2 separate regions of the Homo sapiens genome follow, and region 1 is linked to region 2. The links come from fine-mapping of genetic effects on gene expression. A gene starts in region 2. The other region holds a variant in brackets. All regions are shown on one strand. Distances are between the middles of the regions.

Region 1 (8,333 bases), 70 kb after region 2:
GCCCAAGAGGGGCTAAGAACCTCATGGTATTAGTGTCATAGCTATTAGTGGTGCAGCCTGGTCTTGAACCCTGTTCTCTATCTCCCAGTCTAGTTCTCTTTATTCATTTTCTCTGCCAAATATGTATAAAATTATTGCTTTAGAACCCAGCAGAAATCCTGTCTGTGCCCAGCCCCTAGGGCATCACAGTCACCAGAAAGCATGCTGAGATGACCAGACGTTTTGGCAAAGGTTTGCATCATCTTAGGTTTTTTTTTTAAGCCCCACTGGGGAGATACTGAAAGGAAATATGTAAGAAATGCACTGACCATCACTTGGTCCTTCTTTCCCTGTATCCCAAATGAAGCTTTTAATCAAGAAATCCTTTCAGCCAACATGTGCCTGGGATTGTCAGAGCCTTGTCCCAGCCCCTGGGGCAGATACTGTAACTCTGCCTGCTACAGGAGAAGTTATGTGTGTGGAGGAACTAATTTTGCATGTGATGCAATGTAAGAAGGCCCTTCTTGTCCCAAGACCCAGGGTATGCTGGCTCCTGTGGACAGTTGGAAGTTTGCTTAGGGAAACTTTAAGCAAGGAGACTTTAGAAACCCCCAGGATGACTCATAGCAAAACAGATATTTTTCTTCTACTTTTAGAATTTTAAAGAGCATTTTACAAAAGCAAAACTCAAAGTGTAGACATGTCATTGGCAGTGTGATAAGAGTATTTTCACTATTCTCTACCCTAAACACTACTGCCAGATTTTTAAAATCTTCTTAAAAAAAAAAACAAAAAAAACAAATTCCCTTTCGTCCTGTGACCCCAGTGATGAGCCCCCCTGGACTCACCCTTAATCTGGAAGAAAAATCAGGCCCTTCGGCTTGCTTGGCCTTTGAGACCATTAGCAGCCCAACCTCAACTTACCTTTTTAGTTTTATCTTTTATATCTACCCTGATGAGCTCCCAAGTGTATTTCTTCCCTTTTCTGAGCTTTTACCACAGATGACCACCTCCTCTCTAACTCTCATCCACTTCAACTGACTCCATCCAGGCTGTCTTTTCCCAGGAAACCTCTGCTGGCCCTCCCTCCCCACCTCCTGTAGCCCAGGTCTGCAGCACTTCCCATCTGCATGGCTCACCCACCCTTTCTCCTGTGCTTCAGCTGAGGTGGTGTGGAGAGCTGGTTTCTCTGAACTCATGCTTTTGAAGGTAGAAACACTATCGTCTTCATTCTCCTTTACAGAGGGCATAGATTCTGGAAGAAGAGGTTCCTGGTGCCAGAGCAGGAGCCCTTGCCCTTTGAGCAGTCCAAGGTGGTGGTGTCTCAGGGCAAAGGGGAGATACTTATGTTCAGAGAGGCATGGAGCTGGAGGGGAAATATTTGCTCAGAAAAGAAATCTTGCTCCAGGGCCTGTGTGGGATGGGATAGTATATACTATTAATATTACAGTTAAGAACATGGAGTCTGGAGTGAGGCCTGAATTAGAATCCTGGCATTGCCACGTTTACCAGCTGTGTGATCCAAGGTAAATTATCTCAAAAGTCTGGATTTCTTTAACTATAAAATAAGGGAGATAATAGTACCTACCACATACAGGCTTTATGAGGACTCAGTAAGATAGTACGATTAGTGCAGTATCATGCATGTAGGAAATACTCAATAACATGCTTGCTATTAACTGCTATTGGTGATTATCAGGAAGGGAGAAGTTGAAAGAGGAACAGATGGAACCAGGTTCTCTCCTAGAATTGCCTCTCAGGCCATTCAGTGCTTCAGCTTTATGACCCTTCCCATACTCCAGATCAAGGTCTCAAACCAAGCATATTGAAGACCTAGAAAAGGCAGCTGCAACCTGGGCCACCATAGGTGACCAGAGGCCTCATTGGCTGCTGGATCTGGCCAGCTTGGCTGTGGTTGCTGAGTGAAGGCTGATCAGGGCTGATGCTCTAGTTCATTCTCCTAACAGACAAAGCCTAGGGATAAGGTAGTCTCTTGCCACAAGTATCCAGAGGGACTCAGTCACAAACAGCTCACACCTGTTCTACATTGAGTCCAGTGGATCCAACCCACACAACCATGAACACACCTCTAAAAATAGCTCCGAGCAGGGTCTGTGGGACCCACCCACTGCTCTTTCGGCAAGAGTTCATTTTCCCAGGAACAGAAATCCCAGACTGTCAGCATCTTCACACTGCTTCCTGGCTTCCAGCACTCTCAGTGCTTAAGCAAATTCCAACTGTAGGTCACAAAGAAAATGGAATCACTACAGGTCCCCCATGCAGTTGGCTCAGGTTCTGCAGTAAAAAGTGGAATTAACTCAAGCTGCTAATGTGAGACTTTATTCTGTGTCATCTGGTGCTCAAATGGTTGATCTAGTAGCCTGGCCACTTGGGCCAGAAGAGCTGCAAAGGCAGACACGGAGGTCTCCTCACTCCAGACACTGACTTGCCTTGCATTCATGTTGGACTGCAGTGAAAGTTACAGAAATAGGCAGCAGCTTCTGTGAAGGCTGTTCCTACTAGTTAAGAGCATGGATCCTGGATCTAGATTCCTTGGGCTCATATCTCACCTCTGTGTAGACTTGGGCAATTTATTTAACCTTCCTAGAATTCAATTTCCTTGATTATATATATGGATAAACAATTCTATAGATAGATAGATAGATAGATTTTTTTTTTTTTGAGACAGAGTCTAGGTCTGTCACCCAGGCTGGAGTGCAGTGGCACAATCTTGGCTCACTTCAACCTCCTTCTCCTAGCTTCAAGCGATTCTCCTGCCTCAGCCTCCCGAGTAGCTGGGATTACAGGCATACACCGCCATGCCCAGCTAATTTTTTGTATTTTTAGTAGAGATGGGGTTTTGCCATGTTAGCCAGTCTGGTCTCGAACTCCTGATCTCAGATGATGCGCCCGCCTCAGCCTCCCAAAGTGCTGGGATTACAGGCGTGAGCCACCGTGCCCAGCCAATTCAATGTATGTTAAGTGCTTAGGAAGCACTTTATAAGTGTTAGAGTTATGGGGAGGATGACATCGATCAGAACTGACAACCTCTGGTTACTCGGGAGCCAGGTACCCAACCTTGATTCTGAAAAGAGAGGTTTTTCAATCCTATGGGAAAGGCAACAGTGGATATGGTCACCCAAGGGCACTAGCTTCCTCAATTTCCTATGATACCTCCTATTTCTGGCCAACACACCCGAGATGCCTGTACATTATGTTTCCTGGTATAATTTAGAAGCTAGAATTCTGCCATCTCTGACATCCAGCACCTGTAACTCCTGCCAGCTCCTTGAAGAGAGGCCTCTTTTACCCAGTGGGATTTAACAAACTGGCATCACACCAGGGTCATTTGCTGAACAACTTGTGGGCACTACAGAGCAGCACAGCCATTGTTGGTTTTGTGGACTGGCAGCAGCACTTAGGGATCCTTTGACTCATCCCTGCTTTTCTCTGTCCCTTCCTCCATAGCAGCTCTTTCACACTTTTCCATTAGTCTTCAACCTTATACTCCCCTTTCAACTGATGTCACTACCAATGTCATAGGAAAAAAAAAAAAAAACCAGCCAAACTGAGATGAGTCTCTTCACCCTCCCTCCCTTTCACCGCAAAATGTAACTGTATTTCAGCATCCTGTTTCATGGGCCAGGAGTCCCTTCTCTCAGCCAAGGCTATCCCAGTATCCTGTCCTTGACCCAATCCTGTTCCAGCTCCTCTTGTTGCTCTGATTGTTTCTTCTCTCAGCTCCTCCCTGCCTATCTGTCCCTTGCCCTTGGTGGAAAATGCTTCTCCTCAATTCTCAGGGAAAAAACAAATCAAAACTATCTTTGACCCTGTGCTTGTCTCTTCATGCTGCCTTATAACTTACCTTCCTTTCACTGTTAAGATTCTTGGTGAGTTGTTAGCCTGCTCGTTCATCTCTACTCCCTCCTGGTCACTCCTGAAGCCAGTGAGCACTAACTTTGTTCCTATAGTCATCTTTTAAATTCCTTCTGTAATGTTATTTTTGCTGCCTCTAGTTCCCAGGCAATCTTCCCCATACATTTTCCTTTGTATTCATTTCCATTTGGAAATCTTGTAGGATTAATGGCATTCTTGTGACCCGAGGAGCAGCTCCTTACTTTGGCTCTTGCCTAATTCTGTGTTCTCAAACTTTGGATCTTTCATGCCGAAGAGAC[A/T]CCAGGCTCTAAAGCCTCCAGGGGAGCTAAGACAGTCACAGCGCCCACTCCACCCTAACTGTAGCACCCAGTCCTGCTGCACTGTCTCTGAAGGTGTTTTCAGTAATAATGACTCAGTGCATCTATTGGAGTTGGCAAGGTGAGGACAGTCTTCAAAGAGTCTTCTCTTTTTACTCTCCTCCTGGCTTTCACATCCTCTCATTACAGGATACCAGCACACATACAAATGCTATTTCTGCAGCCCAGTGCTGTAAGCTTTTTATGTGTCCAGCTACCAGATAAAGAGAATTTAGCAGTGACCAAGCTCAGCCAAGGTTATAATTTTGGGGAAAAAAAAAATCTTGGTAAATGTGTTTCTCTACAAATCTAGCTCCCCAGGAAGATCAGTTAGGAGCTTCATCCCAGCCCCTTGGTTGGAGAGCTGATGGCCAGTTTATCTTCAGGGTGTCCTGTGTTTGCTATGTTAGTTCTGGAAGACCAGAATATCTGAAGGGTAGTGATTGTCATAGCTTCATGGGTAGCATGTCTGTATTGGGAAGGCTATTTCCAAAGCTGCTGTTCTCACATTCTCCTAGGGGTATTCCTTTAAAGCCTTCAGACTCAATCATTCAAATGGTGCCTCCACTGTAAAGCCTCTTCTCTCTTTTGAAGGTGAAATGTTTTTGTCTCTCCTCTATGCCCCTGCCATTCATGTGCATACAACTCTTTATGATAGTACTTATTACATCCTGCTGCAAAGGTTGATTTCTTTTTTCCTTCTGTCCTTATTCCCTGTAATACTACAGAGCTTTTTAAGGGCAGGGACTAAATCATTGTTTAGCACAGAAAGTGGCACCTAGTGGGTGCTCAGGATTATTCAAGTCATTTCATAAATACATTCATGACGTGTGATGATGTGAACATTGGTCAACCAAGAAGCTATTTATTTGCTGTTTATGAACTCTGCTTTGTTCTTCCTTAAAAGAGGACATTTAGATCATTGGATGATAGCCTCATCAGCAATACTTAACCTCCCCTTATATATAATTGAGGGGAGGAGGGAATAAGGGTCAAGGTCAGGATAGGCTTTCTCTTGTTGGACTCCTGGTAGCCGAGGATCTGACTGCACTCTATTCACATTGCATTTGGAAGAAATTTCTTTAACACTGTGACAAAGATGGTAGATTGGCTTGACCGTTCTTCACCTAGAAAAAGCAGAACTGGTCCTGGGAATACTCAGGTTTATAATAAATGCCAGAAAGCCCTAAAACTCCTTAATAAAAAAATCTAGGGGAAGTTTTCTTTTTTATAAGAACCTGCCTACACTCATACTACTGGGTTCCCTTGGTGTTGGGTAACCAGAGTCCTGTAACAGGAATTGACTGTAGCTTTTGTGATCCAATCATTTTTGTTTATTTATTTATTTTGGTCCCCTTACTTTTAAGGTTTATGTCTTCTAAGTTTCTAAAAGGGGTTGCATGTGAGTGGTGCTTCTGAGCTTAAGATATAGCCTTAGTAACTTTGATATCTCCCCTGATGCCCTGTGCCTGGCAGCTATGGTTCACTTGTAACTAGTTTTCTGGATTTTGATAAGATCCTCTTGACTAGGCAGCCTGGAAACACTACACATTTTCTTTTGTTTTCTTATTCAGCTAAAAATACATGTCATCTAAATGGCTAAATAAGGAAGAACCATTTTAAGGCTTATCCAGGACAAGGCTTACCCAACGTGCTGTGTTCAAAATCTCAGCGTATTTACAGGCAAAGAGCCATCATATAATTTAACATGCTCTGACCAGTTGGGACAGTGTATGTACTGTGGCCAAGATCCTGAAGGCACTGGAATTTATAGCTTATTAGAAGCACTGAAGGAAATGTAACTCTTTACCTGGCCAAGATGACAACTATTGATATCAAAAAAAGGAAGGCAGATGCATTTTGAGGATCCCAAGGCAAGAGCTCTGAGAAGCAACTGTTGGCTTCAAAAACCAACATGATGCTAGAGCTGTCACACTGGGGAGCCGACTGTTTTAGGTTTTCCCACACTCCTTACTTGTATACCAATGACACCCCTGTTGTGATCTAGCCCTTGCCCCATTTGACTACTCTGGAACCAACTCCTTCCCCTAGTTCAATGAAGTACAGTGCCAGCAGGAAGTCTCCTGGGTCATGCCAGTTGGGGAGTGCTACAGAACTGCCCTCATCCAGCATCCCTGAGGTGTACCAGAGCACATGTGAAGAGTGTGTTCTCCTTGCAAATGGCCAGCCAGGCCATAAAGCAGTCATGCTGCCCACCACAAATCTGCAGGACCCCAGCCATGGCATCAAGCACTCACCCTGTCTAGAGCTCCAAGGAGAGACTAACATGGCTATCCCTTGGCCAAGCTACAGTGGAAGGGCTAGGCCAGGAGAGAGCATTGTCATAGATCTGAACAGCCACTGCAGTCAGAGGGTGATGTCTTTGAGGAGGCCGCTGGGGGTTAACTTGGCTGAAAAGTTCATGTTTAACCCAAATTTGAACTAACCTCTAGATTGGAACAGAAATAAAAACCCAAGTGTTTATGATTGGTTATTACTAGCTATAAAAATTCCCAGTGTACTCATTATAAACATGTATGTAGCACATAATACTTAGAGTACACAATAAAACACTTGTACGAAAGAAAAATATGTGGCCATGAATGTATGACTCAAAAATGTGAGCACTTGTTCAGGGATAGTGGAGAAGTGAACTCATCTTTGGCAATGTGGCCCAAAGACATGATCCCAGGGCTATTAGCTAATGGTGGGTTCTGCGTTGTCACTGTCACAGAGGCTTTCTTTTTGTTTTGTTTTTTCATTTCAAGCCTGAAAGTATTTTGGTTATTGTTCCCTTGGGTTGTTTGTACAGATCTTCATAGATATTTCTTAGGCATCCTGATCAGAAATATTGCCCCTGTTGTTCTCTTACACAAAAAGAGTGAATTAATTAAAACTTTTTGTAGAAGGCATTAAATGATGCCTTCTAACTCATGCTTCTAACTGAATGTTGGTCTTTTAGATTAAACAAAGCTAAATCATTTATAAGTTAGCTAAATTCATTTGTTAAATTATAATTTAAAAATCATTTCCATATTCCTATGATTATTCAAAAACTGTTTATATCACACAGGAATTTTTAGAGCACCCTACTATAAAGAGCACTCTGTAGTTTTAGTGCCACACGTTTTCAGGTATGCTGACCTAACTTGACCCTTTCTGTTGCTCCGTGAAGCATGATTTTTTCTATTGAAAGGATGGAAAGCCTGAGATGAGGTAACCTACTTGAGATTACACATGGTTAGGTGCAGCCCCAGCCTCCTAATTATTCTTGGTTTGTCCTCTTTCTGCAGAGAAGGTGGTCCCTTGGGGAGGAGGATGCAATAGGAATTCTGTAAATGAATATGGAAGCACCACAAGAAAGTCCCCAGGGATCCCCTGACTTGAAGTTCAGCTGGGCCAAATGAGGGGAACAGGGAACCCAGAGCTCTCAGCCTCCCAGCGCCCAGACCTGGCATTTGTACAGCTGTGTCTGACATGTAATTCTTTCGACATAACTTCTTAAACAGTTGTTAGATCTATTTCTGTTATTTACCCTTCATTTATTCATTTTCTGATTCATTTTCTGATAATATCTTTTAGACTTTAGCTCCTGTTTATTTCTTGTTTTGTTTGAACTTACTTTTTCATATCACACATCCTGCTCCCCACCTCCACCAACCCCGGTTGATGCCCATGGGCCTGTTGCATCTTGTATTCATTCCCTGTCTTAACCTTTTTGCTCTACATGGGAAATAAGAATGGAAGCAAACAGGTGGTGGATAGAAAGCCATCTATTCCACACACAAAGGACACTGAGTGCCCTTTTTATCCTAGTACATCCCACACAGACACTCCCTGTGCCACAAAGTAGATCTCAATTAGCCCCTGATGATAATCCTGGTTTGAACTATAGTTGGCTTAGGACTGACAGCCCTGTCTTAAAAATTGCCACTTTAAGCAAATCAAGCAATAGTGGCAGAATTCCTTTGCAATTCAGAACTATATCCAAATAGCAGGAATTCTTTCCTACAAGTCTGTTTCCAAAGGAGTAAATTTTAGTCAGTTGATCACCTTTTGAGACAAATGTATTAACCAGAACTTTTGGTTGCAAATAACAGAAACTCAGTTTGAACTAGGCCA
Region 2 (8,333 bases):
GAATGGGCTTGGCTTCTTGCTGGGATTTAAATGCCCTTTTTCTTAAGGAAACAAAATGCATGCCTATGTTGCATTTTCGCTCTAGGATTTTCCAAGGGAAACCCTTCTTCTAAGGACGGTCATGTCACAGTAGAACTGAAAATATTCCCCATCAGTATTAGACCTGAAAGGAAACAAGATTTACCAAGCATGGGGAGCCTTCCAGAAAGCAGACAGCTCATGTTTATAAAGTAATCTCTCCTTTTTCTCCTGTTTGGCCAGGCTGTGACAACATGCTGATGGGCATAAAGTCTTTGAAAATAGTGAAGAAGATGATGGACACACATGGCTCTTGGATGAAAGATGCTGTCTATAACTCTCCAAAGGTGTACTTATTAATTGGATCCAGAAACAACACTGTTTGGGAATTTGCAAACATACGGGCATTCATGGAGGATAACACCAAGCCAGCTCCCCGGAAGCAAATCCTAACACTTTCCTGGCAGGGAACAGGCCAAGTGATCTACAAAGGTTTTCTATTTTTTCATAACCAAGCAACTTCTAATGAGATAATCAAATATAACCTGCAGAAGAGGACTGTGGAAGATCGAATGCTGCTCCCAGGAGGGGTAGGCCGAGCATTGGTTTACCAGCACTCCCCCTCAACTTACATTGACCTGGCTGTGGATGAGCATGGGCTCTGGGCCATCCACTCTGGGCCAGGCACCCATAGCCATTTGGTTCTCACAAAGATTGAGCCGGGCACACTGGGAGTGGAGCATTCATGGGATACCCCATGCAGAAGCCAGGATGCTGAAGCCTCATTCCTCTTGTGTGGGGTTCTCTATGTGGTCTACAGTACTGGGGGCCAGGGCCCTCATCGCATCACCTGCATCTATGATCCACTGGGCACTATCAGTGAGGAGGACTTGCCCAACTTGTTCTTCCCCAAGAGACCAAGAAGTCACTCCATGATCCATTACAACCCCAGAGATAAGCAGCTCTATGCCTGGAATGAAGGAAACCAGATCATTTACAAACTCCAGACAAAGAGAAAGCTGCCTCTGAAGTAATGCATTACAGCTGTGAGAAAGAGCACTGTGGCTTTGGCAGCTGTTCTACAGGACAGTGAGGCTATAGCCCCTTCACAATATAGTATCCCTCTAATCACACACAGGAAGAGTGTGTAGAAGTGGAAATACGTATGCCTCCTTTCCCAAATGTCACTGCCTTAGGTATCTTCCAAGAGCTTAGATGAGAGCATATCATCAGGAAAGTTTCAACAATGTCCATTACTCCCCCAAACCTCCTGGCTCTCAAGGATGACCACATTCTGATACAGCCTACTTCAAGCCTTTTGTTTTACTGCTCCCCAGCATTTACTGTAACTCTGCCATCTTCCCTCCCACAATTAGAGTTGTATGCCAGCCCCTAATATTCACCACTGGCTTTTCTCTCCCCTGGCCTTTGCTGAAGCTCTTCCCTCTTTTTCAAATGTCTATTGATATTCTCCCATTTTCACTGCCCAACTAAAATACTATTAATATTTCTTTCTTTTCTTTTCTTTTTTTTGAGACAAGGTCTCACTATGTTGCCCAGGCTGGTCTCAAACTCCAGAGCTCAAGAGATCCTCCTGCCTCAGCCTCCTAAGTACCTGGGATTACAGGCATGTGCCACCACACCTGGCTTAAAATACTATTTCTTATTGAGGTTTAACCTCTATTTCCCCTAGCCCTGTCCTTCCACTAAGCTTGGTAGATGTAATAATAAAGTGAAAATATTAACATTTGAATATCGCTTTCCAGGTGTGGAGTGTTTGCACATCATTTAATTCTCGTTTCACCTTTGTGAAACATGCACAAGTCTTTACAGCTGTCATTCTAGAGTTTAGGTGAGTAACACAATTACAAAGTGAAAGATACAGCTAGAAAATACTACAAATCCCATAGTTTTTCCATTGCCCAAGGAAGCATCAAATACGTATGTTTGTTCACCTACTCTTATAGTCAATGCGTTCATCGTTTCAGCCTAAAAATAATAGTCTGTCCCTTTAGCCAGTTTTCATGTCTGCACAAGACCTTTCAATAGGCCTTTCAAATGATAATTCCTCCAGAAAACCAGTCTAAGGGTGAGGACCCCAACTCTAGCCTCCTCTTGTCTTGCTGTCCTCTGTTTCTCTCTTTCTGCTTTAAATTCAATAAAAGTGACACTGAGCAAATAACCTCATCAGGTTATATTTGCCCACATACCCTAAGCACAAAAGCTTTCTGGGAGTGCTGCTTGTGTTAGGTTTACTGTGAATGATTCCCAACACACTGAGGCCCTGGTAAATATTCTGGAATCTGGACAGAAGCCATACAGCAGGCAAGCGACTCTGCCACAGCAGGCATGCCCTGTGGCACCGAGGGCAGCATGCCTCTTGACAGGGGCTTCCTCAGTGTTTCCCACGTGTTTGTCCAATTCAGCTAAGTTCGAGTCACAAGTGCAGGCTGTGGTGCCAGTCTGTGTCACGTGCTGAAGCCTCTGTCTTTCCAGGTTGGTCACATGAGAAGGTTTGCTTTGTGTGCTTGCAGCTGTTTTCCTGTCTTTGCCAAGCCCAGGCTGGGACCATAGGCAGTGAAGAGAAAATGTTTTTTTCCATAGCATTTGAGTAGATATTTGGCAGAAGGGAATTACTCAACCCATGGATACAGTGTAATTACCCACAGTTCTAACAGAATGGTACAGAGAGGCCAAATCCTTTGTGGAATGAGACAGGTATGAATAAATAAATGTGATATTACCTGCCCTATTACCTACCTATTTCACAGATAGAAGGAATGTGGGCTGCCTCACAGAGGATAGTGGGGTAGATTTATCAATAGGAGTGAGTCCTGCAACCATAGTTCCTTTGGAGGCACAGAGGGGAGGTTGCCTGAAATGTGCTGTCTAGATTCCACCTGGGATATGATTTGATTGACAGCTCTGCAGGGCACATCTGCCCCAAACAACTCACCTTGGTACCTACCTTAAATCCCTGCAGCTCGAATCACTCTTTTAGGTCAAGACATTTTCTCCAGGAAGCCCCTGTTAAGGGACCACTTTGCTTCTTGTGAGCCAGCGCAGGTCAGTATGCAGGCCTGGGAATGGGGTTTCTTTCAGGTGAACGTTTTAGCTCTGGGGTCTTGTTGGATTTAAGTGAAGACTGACATCGACATGGCCTACATCAGTGGTTCTTAAACTTTGTTGCACATAAGAATCACCTGCGGAGTTTTAACAGTCCTCATGCCGTGGCCATATCCCCAAGACCATTAAATCAGAACCTCTGGGGATGGATCGAGATATCAGTATTTTTAAAGTTCCTTCCCGCAAGTTGGTTCCAAAGTGCAAAGAAGCTCCAGAGCCGGTGACTTAGAACATTTAAAAAGGTAACTGTATCAATTTAAGAACAGGCTAGCAGTTTCTGGGGGCGGAGGTAAGGGGAGTGGCTCCGCTAGGGCAATAAAGGGTGGGATTCGGAAACAGCCATGACCTTGTGTGAACTGTGGCAGCCTGCGTCTACAAAAGTCGCTCTGCTGCTATTTTAAGGAAGTGAAAGAGAACTGAAGGGTGTCCTGTTGTAACACAACTCTTGCGGGCCCCAGCCTTCCCCTGCTGGCTGTGCTTTGGTCTGCTGCTGGCCAGGTTCCCGCAGTGACCACACGTCTCATATTTGCCAGGGTGGGTTAGGTTCTGTTCACATGTAAAATTCTCCTGGGCCTACTGGTCATTTCAGACCGCGAGGGTAAATTTGGTTTGAAAAAGTTGTGTCCTGTGGAGTTTGTCGACACTCCAGCCTGTAGAGAACTAAAGGCTAGGGCTGTGGTGACTCCTGCCAGAGCTGGGGACTATGCCGAGTCCCTGGTGTCGCTGCCATCTGAGGCCTACAGGGATTTTAAACAGCTTAACAGCAGCCAGTCCTTGGAGGCCTGGGCAGGGCCACAACATAGCAGTACAACCAAAACGGGTTCAGGCCACACGCTGGAGGTAGGGGCTGGACCAGATCTCCAGCTTCAGTCCTCCCCAGTTCGAGAACCCATTCCTGTGGTCAGACATTGCCAACGCTTTTCTTGGACCTAAGGTCCCAGACCTTGGCGCTGGGCACAGGGAAATGCTTCCTGACCTCGGCTCTTCATAAGACAGAACTTTTGTTTGGTGCCAACCACTAGAGGGACCTCCACCCCAGGTTGCGAGTGCAGCGCGGCGGGACCTGGGATGATTCGGGGGCTTTCCGACCTGCTTAGGGAGGGCGGCTCAGAGACAACCTCAATTTTGCCTGGATTGCACGCGGGCCGAGGAAGTCGGGATGCTCCGAAGGGTTTCTGCTCTGGGAGTGCCTCTAATGTGGGTTTTCTATGCTTTCTCTCTTCGCAATTCTCGACACCGTTTCCTTCTTCCTCGCTTTCATTCCCTGTGACCGGAGAACGGCGCTGAAGGACTGGAGAAGCCCAGGAGACTGGGAGCCGGAGCGCCGGGTACCCACCCGGGCCTCCCCGCAACCGGAGCTGTGCGGAGGAGGAGGCGCGGCGAACGGGGCGGGGCTCCCGGAAGGGGGCGCGGTCCGCCGAGAGAGGCGGGGCTGGGGCCCGGACGCGCGGCCCAGGGGGTGGGGACGAGGCAGGTTCGAAGGGGCGGGGCTGACCAGGCCGGTCCCCCGGGAACAGGAACCCTGGTGGACGGGTCCCAGCAGGCTTCTTCGGTGCCCGAGAGGGAGCGGGTGCCCAAGGGGGTGGTCCCTGTGGCAGGTCCCGGGGTGGGGGCGCGGCGCTCCGGGAAGAGCCTTCCGCAGGTCCCCGCCCCGTCACGTGGGCGCCGGCCCCGGCCGCTGCGGTCGGTCCGCTGGTTGGTCGGGCGCTTGGTCCGGCAGTTGGTCGGTGGGCCAGTGGCCCGTCGCTCGCTTCTGGGCTCTCATGTTTGAAGGTGGGAGGGACACGGGAGCGGCCCGCACACCTGAGCCGCCCGGAGAGGAGCCTCGGCCCCGTACCCAGGTCAGTGGGCTCTCCCCACACCCCGGGCTTGCCGCGCGGTCGGGGTTGGGATCCCCGTCGGGAGCATTACCTAGGGAGTGGAGCGCCCCCAGAGCTACGAACCACGGGGACGTGTGGGTCAGTGTCTCTGTGAGCCCCGGAGCGTGTCCCAGGCTCGAGGACGGGGACCCTTCTCCAACTCCACTGGCCAGAAGCCTGGGAGGAGGGCAGAACTCCTGTGGGTTGGCTGCGAATCTCCACCCAACCCTGCCTGGGATCCGCGGACAGTCCGCACTCCTGCAGGTGCCAGCGTGGCCCTGGAGATGCGCAGGGAGGTGGGGTCCCTGAGTTCTGTGCGGCGCGTCCCAGCCCTGCTCAGCCCGGGGAGCAGCGGCGTGGACTAGGGAGCCTAAGGAGGTTGCGGAAGCTTTAGGTCTGTCAGCCCAGGCAATTCTCTGGTGGACACAGCGTGTGTCTAGATGCAGGGCCTCGGCTAAAGCCAGTTCTGTAGTGTAAGTGCAAAAATACAGCACACTTTTTAAAATCTAAAGCCGCCGCGTCCCAGTAGACTGCAGGATGGGGACGGTCCTATTTAAAAGTGGGCTCCCTCCTCACCTCATCACATCAGATTCCAGACCCGCAGTTTTTCCTCGGATGAAAATAAGATTATGTAACAAGAGAACAGAACTTCCAGCGTTTGGATAGGATTAAGACAGGCATTCTTGCCAGTGTTTAATCTTCTTAAAAAACGAATCTAATTATATTTTTACTTTTAGAGCAGCCAGATATTTGGTATAGATCCGTGTCCCTTTTCTATATTTTGGTCTACTTCCTGTCTTTCTCTTCGTCTCTCTCCTTTCTCAACCCCTCCTTAATTGATTGTAATACAAATCTGAAGTGTTTTCAAATTTGTAGTGTATTATGTGAAGTTAAATGGTCAACTACAGAAAAGTAGTTGGTTTTCGACATAATTCATCTTCAGCATATTCAGTCTTTCATTATTATAGGTGTATGGAAAGCTGTAAGTGTTATCTAATTTAGAAATTATTTCTCTTTGGCTTAAGAGAGGCAACCCATTTGTACTTTGCTTAAATTCATAGCTAAATAAATTTGAAGTGGGAGATGGGGATGATTGATGAGGTTTTCACTGATTGCATTTATCCATGTTTTATTTAACATATTTCAATTATTAGTAATACTATTTTAAGATTTGGTGATGTGACAGTTGTTAGCTTATTGCTACTGGAGAGATAAGCTGCTTACCATGATGCCTTCTTTACTGGGTAGCTAAGGGAGATGCGCTTTGACTTTAAAAGAGTAAGTGGAATGAGATCAATGACATGAAGGCGGTAGGAACAAAGTTATGGGAATTCCTGTCTTTCATCTGAGCAGGGAAATCTGGGATAATTTTAAGAAAGGGTGATGTGATGGACCTCAAAGGATCCCTCCTGGGGTTTTTGAGGCAGAGAAGGGTAGAGTGTGGCCTGGGCTGTGACAACTGTGTGGGCAGGCAGGCATGGACTCACCATGAGAAGTGGCCAGTGGTCCAGCTTGGCTCTTATGTCAAGTGCTAGTCAGGAAAGCTGGTGACAAGGCTGGAAAATAGTCCCAGCTGTCCAGTACAGAAGTCTGGACTTGGTCTGAAGGCACAGCAGGGGACTGACTGATGGTTCTGTGAACTTCTCAAAGTCAAAGACCTTGGTCCTTGACCCTCCCAATTCCTAGCCTGATACAGAGAAAATCCAGTAAATATTTGTGGAGTGCATGGTCTGACAACACTGTAGAGCAGAGCTTCTCAAAGTTGAGAATCCTGTGGGGATCTTGTTCAAATGCAAATTATGATTCCATAGGTCAGGGGTGGGACTTGACATTCTGTGTTTCTAACAGATTCCCAGGAGCTTGCTGATCATTTCCCTATGTGTAGCAAGGATTTAGAGTAGCAGTTTGCAAACCTGGCTATGCCTCATAATCGCCTGGGGAGTTTTGTAAAACGTTCAGATTAAGTAGTCTGGGATGTTTTTACCAAGTTCCCCCAGGTGATTCTGTTGACAAACCCGAAGGCAACTGCTGCAATGGCAAAGTTCTGGGAGTGTGGTGGGAAGCAAACTCCAAGGGAAAAAGACAGTGGGGGCGGCGAGGCCGGATAGGAAACCGGGAGGCTGATCCAGGGTCAAAGGGATGAGGCCTTATTTTGGGCCTGAGAGAGTGATGAGGTGGGGACAGGTAGGGAGACTTCGGAGAGATAGAATCTGTAGGACAGAGGACTAGGGAATGGGACAGTCTCTAGACTGATTAGATGCAATGAGAAGTGAGGAGGGAGAAACAATGCTGGGAAGATTCAGCTTTGGGCCTGAGGAATGGTATGGCCTTTAGACTGTAATGTTTAAGGTAAAGTTTATGAAAGGTTCTTGTATTGGTTCGAACCCCGAGAGCCTGCCAACAGACAACATGAGGCGGTGTGGGGCAACGTGCTGTTTTAACGAGCGCCTGGGTGCAGGTGGGCTGAGGCCTAAAATGGCGTCAGCACCAAGTGAGGACGAGGCAGGGGTTTTATAGTTTCCTGTAAACAAGAAGTGTCTCAGTCTGATGTAACTTCTGCACAGTACCCAGACGGCCCCTCTCTCTGTCTTCAAGGGGTACGTGTCTTCCAGCCAGGGTAGGTGTCTTCTGGCCGGCTGTCTTCCTGCTTCTGCTGTCTTGCTGATGCACACTGCTGGCGCAACTGGCCTTGCACCTTGGGACTGGGCCTGAGAAGGGAGGAGTTACTCATCTCTTCAAGCTTTCAGACCCCGGGGAGAATCTTTCATTCCTGTCTATTTGGTTATAGTAAAAAGGGAAAAGGGGTGACTTTCTCAATAACTACTTCAGGCGTGACTTAGGGGTGGTGTGGGCTCCTTGGAAAAAGAAAAACTTAATTTTTAGGGTATTCTTGAGAGATGTGTTGGTATCCATCGTGTCGTTGTAGCAGGAGCATAGTCTGAATTGTCTGGTGGCTAACTGTAGTTTCAATAAGAGTTTTAGTGGCTTTTATTATTAGTGGGATAACACAGGGGAGAAAAAGTGATGAAGATTACTGTCCCTACCAGGGTTTTAAATCCTCCTAAATTAGAGAACTGTTGTCCGGCTGCTAGAGTGAGAGCTCGAGTGAGGGTGATGAGTTCAGCTTTTTGGGAGGTGGTGCCTGGGAGGAGCAGATTGGCTTCAATAGTGTGGGGTCTTTAAGGGTAATGTGGACAGGGGTGTGGTGTTTTGCAACTGAGGGTGTGGAAATATCCCTAACAGCGGGGTTAACTACAGATAGGGGTAAGGAAAGGTTGCATGTTTTAGGGTGGGAGGTTGGAGGAGCAGAAGAAAGCTAGAAGCCTCGGA

What was found. PIP is the estimated chance that this variant, and not a neighbour inherited with it, causes the effect.
Region 1: its variant is fine-mapped to the expression of PPFIBP2 in whole blood (INTERVAL, PIP 0.98).

What each region holds. Positions count from the first base shown.
Region 1 is chr11:7,579,194-7,587,526 of GRCh38, forward strand. The region is part of intron 3 of PPFIBP2 (PPFIB scaffold protein 2); the gene reads left to right. It overlaps LOC105376535 (a long non-coding RNA gene), which reads right to left. Exons shown (of 4, transcript XR_007062579.1): 3 at 2,067-2,216. Among named protein-coding and RNA genes, the nearest start is that of PPFIBP2, 69 kb to the left of the region's middle. The variant A/T (reference allele first, on the strand shown) is at 4,155.
Region 2 is chr11:7,509,137-7,517,469 of GRCh38, forward strand. PPFIBP2 (PPFIB scaffold protein 2) reads left to right here and starts at 4,863. Exons shown (of 24, transcript NM_003621.5): 1 at 4,863-4,985. OLFML1 (olfactomedin like 1) reads left to right here. Exons shown (of 3, transcript NM_198474.4): 3 at 262-2,241. The coding sequence ends at 1,052. It overlaps LOC124902806 (leucine-rich repeat extensin-like protein 5), which reads right to left. Exons shown (of 4, transcript XM_047428005.1): 2 at 4,982-5,469; 3 at 2,987-4,904. The coding sequence ends at 4,074. RefSeq lists enhancers at 3,639-3,758, 7,444-7,493 and a silencer at 4,429-4,958.